Homo sapiens: one gene and its partner. The protein of the gene in region 1 interacts with the protein of each later gene in a pairwise test. Each region holds a gene or a part of one and is shown in the gene's direction. Other genes may lie near its edges. The genes, in order: TRPC4AP and TAB1.

Region 1 (3,810 bases):
AGACTTCCTTATGGCAGGCACTGCCCCAAGCTTTCTTCTAACCCTCATAGCCACCCCAGGAACTGAGTATGGAAGTCGTTGGCCCCTTACTACCTTTGGAATCAATGGATTTCTCAACCTACTGCCCCTCTAAAGCAAGAGTGGACAGCGTGGCTATTCCCAGGGGCCGGCAGGAACTTCAGACAGGCAAAGCCGACTGCTTACTGAGCAGCTGGAGGATTCTTCCCTCCACAAGGAGGTGTGCTCCCATTTTTCTTGAAAGACATTCTGCGCTCATTTATTTTTTAACCTTCGATGGAGAATGTACAAGGAAAATTACTCTCTGCTGTAAGGAAAACAGTGCAGGAAGGGGGTGACTAGCAGCTGACCCTTGACCTTGGCATTGGGGAGGTGATGTGGGGACCTTAGTGAACAAGAATTTCAGTGAGCTCAGCTCCAGCCAGCTGCGTGTGCACAGGAAACTGGGCCCACTGTTGCATAACTTCTGATTTTTTCTGCCAAGCAAAGGCAGAAATTAAGATTTATGTGAAAGGTCCTGATTTTAAATGTTGGTTTAAATATTTTAAAAACCTTGCATTTGAGCTAACAGAACATGCCTGGAGACAGCTGTGGCCCCAGGGCACCTCCATCATATGCACCCATCCTCTGTGAGAGGTTTTCCGGCTGAAAGCCATAGAAGGGCTCCAGGAAGCATGTTAACCTTCTGAAAAATGGCACCACATATGTTATGGAACTGTGCTGTTTTCCCTGAGGAAGTGAGTCTCTGGCTTTCATCAGACTCTTCAGTCTGAGTACTCTGTGGGATATCAGGATGAATGCAAACAGCCATGGCCCCTGCTCTCATGAAGGGCAGAGTCTGAAAACAGAGACAGTTGTTCATCCAAGGATTCCACCGTTGAGCATTAGTGATAAGTGGAGATGGTATTCAGGAGGAGAGGAACGGGGTCTGTGAGAGACATTTGACAGGGTCCAGGACTGGCCAGAGGACACTCAGGAACTCTCCCCTGCAGAAGTGGCTTGCCAGCCAAGACCTGAAGTGTCAGCTTGTAGTGAATTGAGTGAACAGGCATGTGAGAGGGTGTGTGTTCTAGCCAGAAGCCCCTGAACGAGGGAAGACCATTGTGGCCAGCTGATGGGAGTGATGTGGGCTTGGCTCTGGGCTGGGCTGCACAGGACGTTGTGGGTCACAGTCACAGGGTGTTGTGGGTCACAGTCACAGGCCTGGATTTTATATACAGATGGTCCACTTAGAATTTTTCAACTTCACAATGGTACAGAAGTAGAATTTTGAATTTTGATCTTTTCCTGGGCTCATGATAAACAGTTCAATACTCTTGCAATGCTGGGCACTGAGCTGCAGCTGCAGCTCAGAATGTATTTCAAGAAAAATGGTGACCAGCTACACGATCACCAAGGTAGACAACCAGTACTCTGTGCTGTGCCTGCCGTGTTGCCAGTGATTATGGCCAACTGTAGGCTGAAGTCAGTGTTCTGAGCACATTCCAGGTAGGCTAGGCTAAGCTAGGAGGTTCAGTGGGTTAGATATATTAAATGTGTTTTCTTTCTTTTTCTTTTTTTCAAGACGGAATCTTGCTCTATTGCCCAGGCTGGAGTGCAGTGGCATGATCTTGGCTCACTGCAACCTCCACCTTCTGGGTTCAAGCAATTCTACCTCAGCCTCCTGAGTAGCTAGGATTATAGGCGTGTGCCACCACGCCCAGCTAATTTTTTATATTTTTAGTAGAGATGGGGTTTCGCCACGTTGGCCAGGCTGGTCTCGAACTCCTGACCTCGTGATCCACCCGCCTGGACCTTCCAAAGTGCTGGGATTACAGACGTGAACCACCGCGCCCGGCCTCAATATGTTTTCAACTTAACGGCATTTTCAAATACGATGGGTTTATCAGGACATAACCTCCTCCTAAGTCAGGAAATGTCTGTTCTAAATGCAGTGGGAAGCTGTGGAAGTGTTTTCACCGGGAGTGACAGGATCAGAGTCCTGATTCTGAAGATCACTTTTGGCACCGTGTGATGACTCAGTTCCTGTGGGATACCTTTTAGTAAAGGGAGCTGGTGTCCTGGGAACACAGGACCCAGCAGTGACAGGCCTGGATGGCAAGTCGGGGGAAGTGTCACAGTTAACCAGGCCTCTGTGTGATGTGTGACCGTGGTGCTTGGTGGGACTGCTGCAGCAGGGCCAGGCTTGAGTGTGATTGGACCTGTTGAGGTGTTGGTGCCTTTGAGAAAACAAGTGGAAATGTAGGCAAAGAGAAAGGCCCAGAGCTGCTGAGGGAAGGGGCCTTGTCGATGAATGTGGCAGGCAGGGGTCGGGGATGGGGGTGGGGCCAGGGAGAGATTCCACTGCCTGAGAGCCCAGAGTTCCCTCCTGCAGGTGCTGGCTGGAGTGAGAGGTGCTAGAGGAAAGTGCCTGGTGGCTTCTCAGATTCTGTCCACAGGAAGTGGGCAGGAGACTCCCTACACTAGCCTGGTGCTGACCCAGCAGCCCCAGTTCCTGTCCTTTACCTCCTCCAACCCATTTTGTTTCAGGAACAAGTACTTGTTACTCAACAACCAGGAGCTGAATGAACTCAGTGCCATCTCTCTCAAGGCCAACATCCCTGAGGTGGAAGCTGTCCTCAACACCGACAGGTGAGTGCAGGGGTGCAGCTTTTCCCTCAGCCCATCCCGGCTGCCCACGTTCCCCGGGGGCTCACCGGTGAGCACATCCAGGTATGCACGCGTGTCCTCTCTCACATGCAGCTACAGTGTCCTGAGGGCTCCTGTGTGCCAGGCATTGTATTCATGTCACCTGCATTTTCTCATTGGAGCCTCACAGCAGCCCTAGGAGGGGAGCCCCATCAGTACCTGCACTTGACAGATGAGGTGAGCCTCAGAGAGGTCACCTGCCAGAAGTCATGTGTGCTCCGCACTGCCCCACCGCCTTGTCTCGTGCATTCAGCCCCTTTGCTTATGTGCTCCTTTCTTGCCTGGTGGCATCTGCAGCCAAGCAGGACAGACAGAAGCCTCTTACCTGCTGCCAAGTGTTAGGTTGCATTACCTGGGTTAGGTTTGCCTCACCTGGAGCCAGGCAGTGGGGGGCTAGTCTCACAGGCGTCAGAATACAGTGGACTTTATCCAACAAGAGCCATGATTTCCCAACCTTTTTTGTTTGTTTGTTTTGTTTTGTTTTTTAGACACAAGGTCTTGCTCTTTCTCTCAGGCTGCAGAGCAGTGGTGTTATAGCTCACTGCAGCCACAAACTTCTGAGCTCAAGTGATTCTCCTGCCTCAGCCGCCCGAGTAGCTGGGACTACAGGTGTGCGCCACCATTCCCAGCTAGTGTTTTTACTTTTTTTTTGTAGAGATGGGGTCTCACTATGTTGCCCAGGCTGGTCTCGAACTCCTGGCCTCAAGTGAGCCTCCCAAAGTCCAGGGATTACAGGTGTGAACCACCTCTCCTGGCCTCCCAATCTTTTTTTTCTAAGGTAGCAGAACTCTTCATTCAAATAAAATTGTACCCAGTCCTGCCCTGATGTCTGCAGTGGATCACAGCAGAGCTGCTCTGTTTGAAGGGCCCAGACCCCTGCGTGCCTGGCCGTCTTCCTTCCCCCATGACGGGGCCAGAGTCATTTCCTCATCTCCTGCCTTTGCTTCATAGACTGGGAAGCTGAGGCTTGGAGTTGTGGACACTTGCCCAAGGCCAGCTGGAAGTGAACCTCAGGCACGGAGTACGCTGGGCCTCACCCTATTGGCAGAGTCTTTCCCCATCTGGCAGACTGGCATGACCTGTTTCAACACACTTTTGGTATAA
Region 2 (3,810 bases), on another chromosome or scaffold:
TGTCCCCCTAGGCCTTCGATGTGGTGGAGAGGAGCTTCCTGGAGTCCATTGACGACGCCTTGGCTGAGAAGGCAAGCCTCCAGTCGCAATTGCCAGAGGTAATTTCCCCAGCCGACACCCAGGGGAGTCAAGTCCAGGCCCAGCTTTGCAAGGAGCATGGACTCATCTACTTTCTTGACATTACTGGGCCAGAGCAACAGGCGTTAGGGAGCAGTTCCTGATGGGTGACACTGGTGTGTGGCCACAGGTGAGGGACCTCGCTGCTCTGCTGTGGGCAGCTGCATGCTAAAGCTCAGCAGTGTCTGGGCAGTGGTGGACATGAGGAAGGGCTTTTCCCAGTCCTTCGTCCTGAATGGGTCCCCGCCCTTGTCAACCACCTGCTCACATCGCCTACTGCCACCTGCAGCGCTTACCTCTGTGCTGTGAGTTCGGTCATCTCCAGCTTTCTGGAAGAACCTTAGCCTGGAGCTGTAGCGAAGGCTTCATCTTGGCTGTGCCATGGACCATCTGTCTGTCTGTCCCCCGGGCCCTCGGATCTTTGCTCTTAAGAGCAAAGGGAGGCCGGGCATGGTGGCTCACGCCTGTAATCCCAGCACCTTGGGAGGCCGAGGCGGGCGGATCACAAGGTCAGGAGATCAAGACCATCCTGGCTAACATGGTGAAACCCCGTCTCTACTAAAAATACAAAAAATTAGCTGGGCGTGGTGGTGGGCGCCTTGTAGTCCCAGCTACTCTCGAGGCTGAAGCAGGAGAATGGTGTGAACCTGGGAGGCGGAGCTTGTAGTGAGCCGAGATCATGCCACTGCACTGTAGCCTGGGGGACACAGCGAGACTCCATCTCAAAAAAAAAAAAAAGAGTAAAGGGAGTGGAGAGGGCTAGGAAGATGGTCCAGAGTTCTGTCCTGCCCTGACCCTCTGTTGATGGTTGTAGGGAGTCCCTCAGCACCAGCTGCCTCCTCAGTATCAGAAGATCCTTGAGAGACTCAAGACGTTAGAGAGGGAAATTTCGGGAGGGGCCATGGCCGTTGTGGCGGTCCTTCTCAACAACAAGCTCTACGTCGCCAATGTCGGTGAGCCCCCTCCTGTCCCAGGGCAGGGAGGACTGGGGAGAGGTCAGCCACAGGGGTCGGTGCATTATTTGACAATCTGCTTTCCAGACACTTCACGCACTTTAAACCCAGGGTCTCCTGAGACCGTTGGGTATGTCCCTCTCCACAGTGACGCCTCAGTCCCAACTGGAAGGGAGAAAGGACGGGATGGGAGACAGGTGTCCTGGCCTTTAGTCCCTATTCTGCTTCTTAACTCATTCTGGACGAGTCGTATCCCATTCTGGGTGGCCTTGGGGGCCGCTGCTTCTGGAAGAGGTTACCTGGCCATGAATAACCAACCAGTATCCCCATGAACAGCTGCGAGATGGGGCTAGGTGACAGGGACATTGGGGTTTGTGAGAAGACCAGACAGGTGCAGGTTTCAGTAGAAAGGACTCTGTAGAGACCCTTCTGATGATGCTGCCTTTTTTTAATACTCCAGTGGAAAATTTTCCACAATATAGAACAATAGAGTGACTGATATTTAATGAACATTCATGCGCCCATCCCCAATCCCAGCAGTTATCAACTGTGGCCAGCCTTCTTTGTCCCCACGTTCTCTATTTTGAAGCAAATGCCAGACACTGTATCATGTTATCTGTAAATATTTCAGTCTGTATCTCTAGAGAAGAGGTCTGTTTTATTAAGATCATAATCCTATGATTACACTGAAAAAGTTAAACCCAATTCTTTCGTATCACCAGCTGTCCCTAACTGGTGACTCACCCCGTTGGTCTGAGCCTGTTTTGCCCATTTCAGGTATTTCCATGTGTGAAATGCCTGCCTTTTCCCTCTCTGCCTTCCCGGTATGCCCTATTTCTCTCTGTGTGTAGTCTTTGCTTAGCTGTTCACATTCTGCCACAGGTACAAACCGTGCACTTTTATGCAAATCGACAGTGGATGGGTTGCAGGTGACACAGCTGAACGTGGACCACACCACAGAGAACGAGGATGAGCTCTTCCGTCTTTCGCAGCTGGGTGAGTGGGGAGAGTGGGAGCGGAAGCTGATCCCCATGGGCTCACCCTTCGCCTGCCTTTGGTGGTGGGGTAGAGAGGCGTGTGGTAGAGGGGCTGTGATCTTGGGCTCCCCAGCCAGCCTGCCTGGGGTTCATTCCCAGCACTGCCGCTTACTGGTTGGTGATTGGAACTTAAGTTTTCTGTGCCTCAGATCCCCCGCTGTGTAATGAGGATAATAGTAACCTACCTCGGGATGCTAGGAGGATTCAGTTAGTGCATGTGAAATGCTTCCTGGAGTGCCTGGCACACAGAAGACACTTACTGTTATTGGTGGAGACTGAAAGAGGCCAAAGAAGTCCAGGGAGCCCAGCTGCTGCTGAGCTGCTCCTTCCCTTCCCAGTGAGCTCCAGGCAGATGTGGGGCACACGGGATGGGCAGGGAGACGGCAGGCAAGCTGCTCCGTGCCAGGTGGTGCCTGGAGGACGGGCTCTGAGTGAGGTGTGTCGTGATGGGCGTGGGGACTGAGGACACCAGGGACTTTGGGTCAGCTGCTCTCCCAGGTGCCCTGGTGTTGTCTTCATTTCCTATTCAGTGGGTCCTTATTGCCTTCTTCCCATGACTGTGTCTCTGTCCCCTTCTTTTTGTTCCTCTTTGTGAACAAGAAGCAGGATTGTTGCACTGTTTCCCTCCGTAGGCTTGGATGCTGGAAAGATCAAGCAGGTGGGGATCATCTGTGGGCAGGAGAGCACCCGGCGGATCGGGGATTACAAGGTTAAATATGGCTACACGGACATTGACCTTCTCAGGTAGGTGCCAGCCCAGCTGTCCCCTGTGCTTGAAAGAACAGAAGGTCCTAGGGAGGCCAAGATGGGAGGATTGATTGTGCTGGGAGGTCGAGGCTGCAGTGAGCCGTGATCATGCCACTGCACTCCAGCCTGGGCAACAGAGCAAGACCCTGTCTCAAAAAAAAAAAAAGGTCCAGAAGGCCTGGGGCAGACGCAGACTGTAGGCCCCAGTGACACATGTGCAGTCAAAGTAGTTCAGAGCCCAGGCAAACTCTTTCTTCCTCCCAGAGAGGTTGGTTTGGGGCAGGTTAGGCCCAGCAGGCCAGGAGTTGGGTACTGTAGAAACAAGGGGTGGAGTTGAGCTGGGCCAAAGCTGAGGGCAGCAACTAGTGCCACAAGGGAGGCAGGCGAAGCCAGAGTTGGCATGGGATGGACAGACCAGGCCTGTTGGTCGGTGCTGCCCATGGCTGCAGCAGAGGTGTGAGATGAATTGTGTATTTCCCTCTGAGGACACCTCCTCTGGACATCACCCCAGCGCTCATGGCAGCAGAATGGGCAGTCATCATCACACGGCCAAGCCCGTGCAGAGCTCTGGATGTACCTTCTTTTATGCATTCCCTACTCAGGCCCCCTGAGGCAGTCACTGCCATCACCCCAGAGGCATTTTCATAAGAGGAAACTGAGGCATGGAGACATCAGGCAGCCCACCCTGGTCATGGGGCTTGAACACAGGCAGCCTGAATTTGGAATATGTGTCCTTAACCGTCAGGTAACCTGTATGTGAAGTGTTGGTTGGGGAGATAGGCGCGTCCACTTGCCTGATGCCAATCATGGCATTTAATGTCATGGCCAAGGCTGTTCCCAAAGCCAGAGTTCCCATCAACAGAGGCCTCATGGCCTAGAAAGTGCATGTTAGAACTCCTTGCCCTCACGCGATCTAGGCAACTGAGTGTCGAATATTTGTCCCTAATTTGTGGGGT

What was found.
Region 2: the proteins of TRPC4AP (region 1) and TAB1 interact in a two-hybrid assay, tested with the Homo sapiens proteins (one large-scale study listed by BioGRID and IntAct).

What each region holds. Positions count from the first base shown.
Region 1 is NC_000020.11:35,009,026-35,012,835, reverse strand, and holds part of TRPC4AP (short transient receptor potential channel 4-associated protein), read left to right. Parts: intron 1-2,547; coding exon 2,548-2,649; intron 2,650-3,657; coding exon of another isoform or gene 3,658-3,670; exon of another isoform or gene 3,671-3,777; intron 3,778-3,810. UniProt on the Homo sapiens protein: Substrate-recognition component of a DCX (DDB1-CUL4-X-box) E3 ubiquitin-protein ligase complex required for cell cycle control.
Region 2 is NC_000022.11:39,416,780-39,420,589, forward strand, and holds part of TAB1 (TGF-beta-activated kinase 1 and MAP3K7-binding protein 1), read left to right. Parts: intron 1-11; coding exon 12-98; intron 99-931; coding exon 932-1,070; intron 1,071-1,952; coding exon 1,953-2,066; intron 2,067-2,739; coding exon 2,740-2,851; intron 2,852-3,810. UniProt on the Homo sapiens protein: Key adapter protein that plays an essential role in JNK and NF-kappa-B activation and proinflammatory cytokines production in response to stimulation with TLRs and cytokines.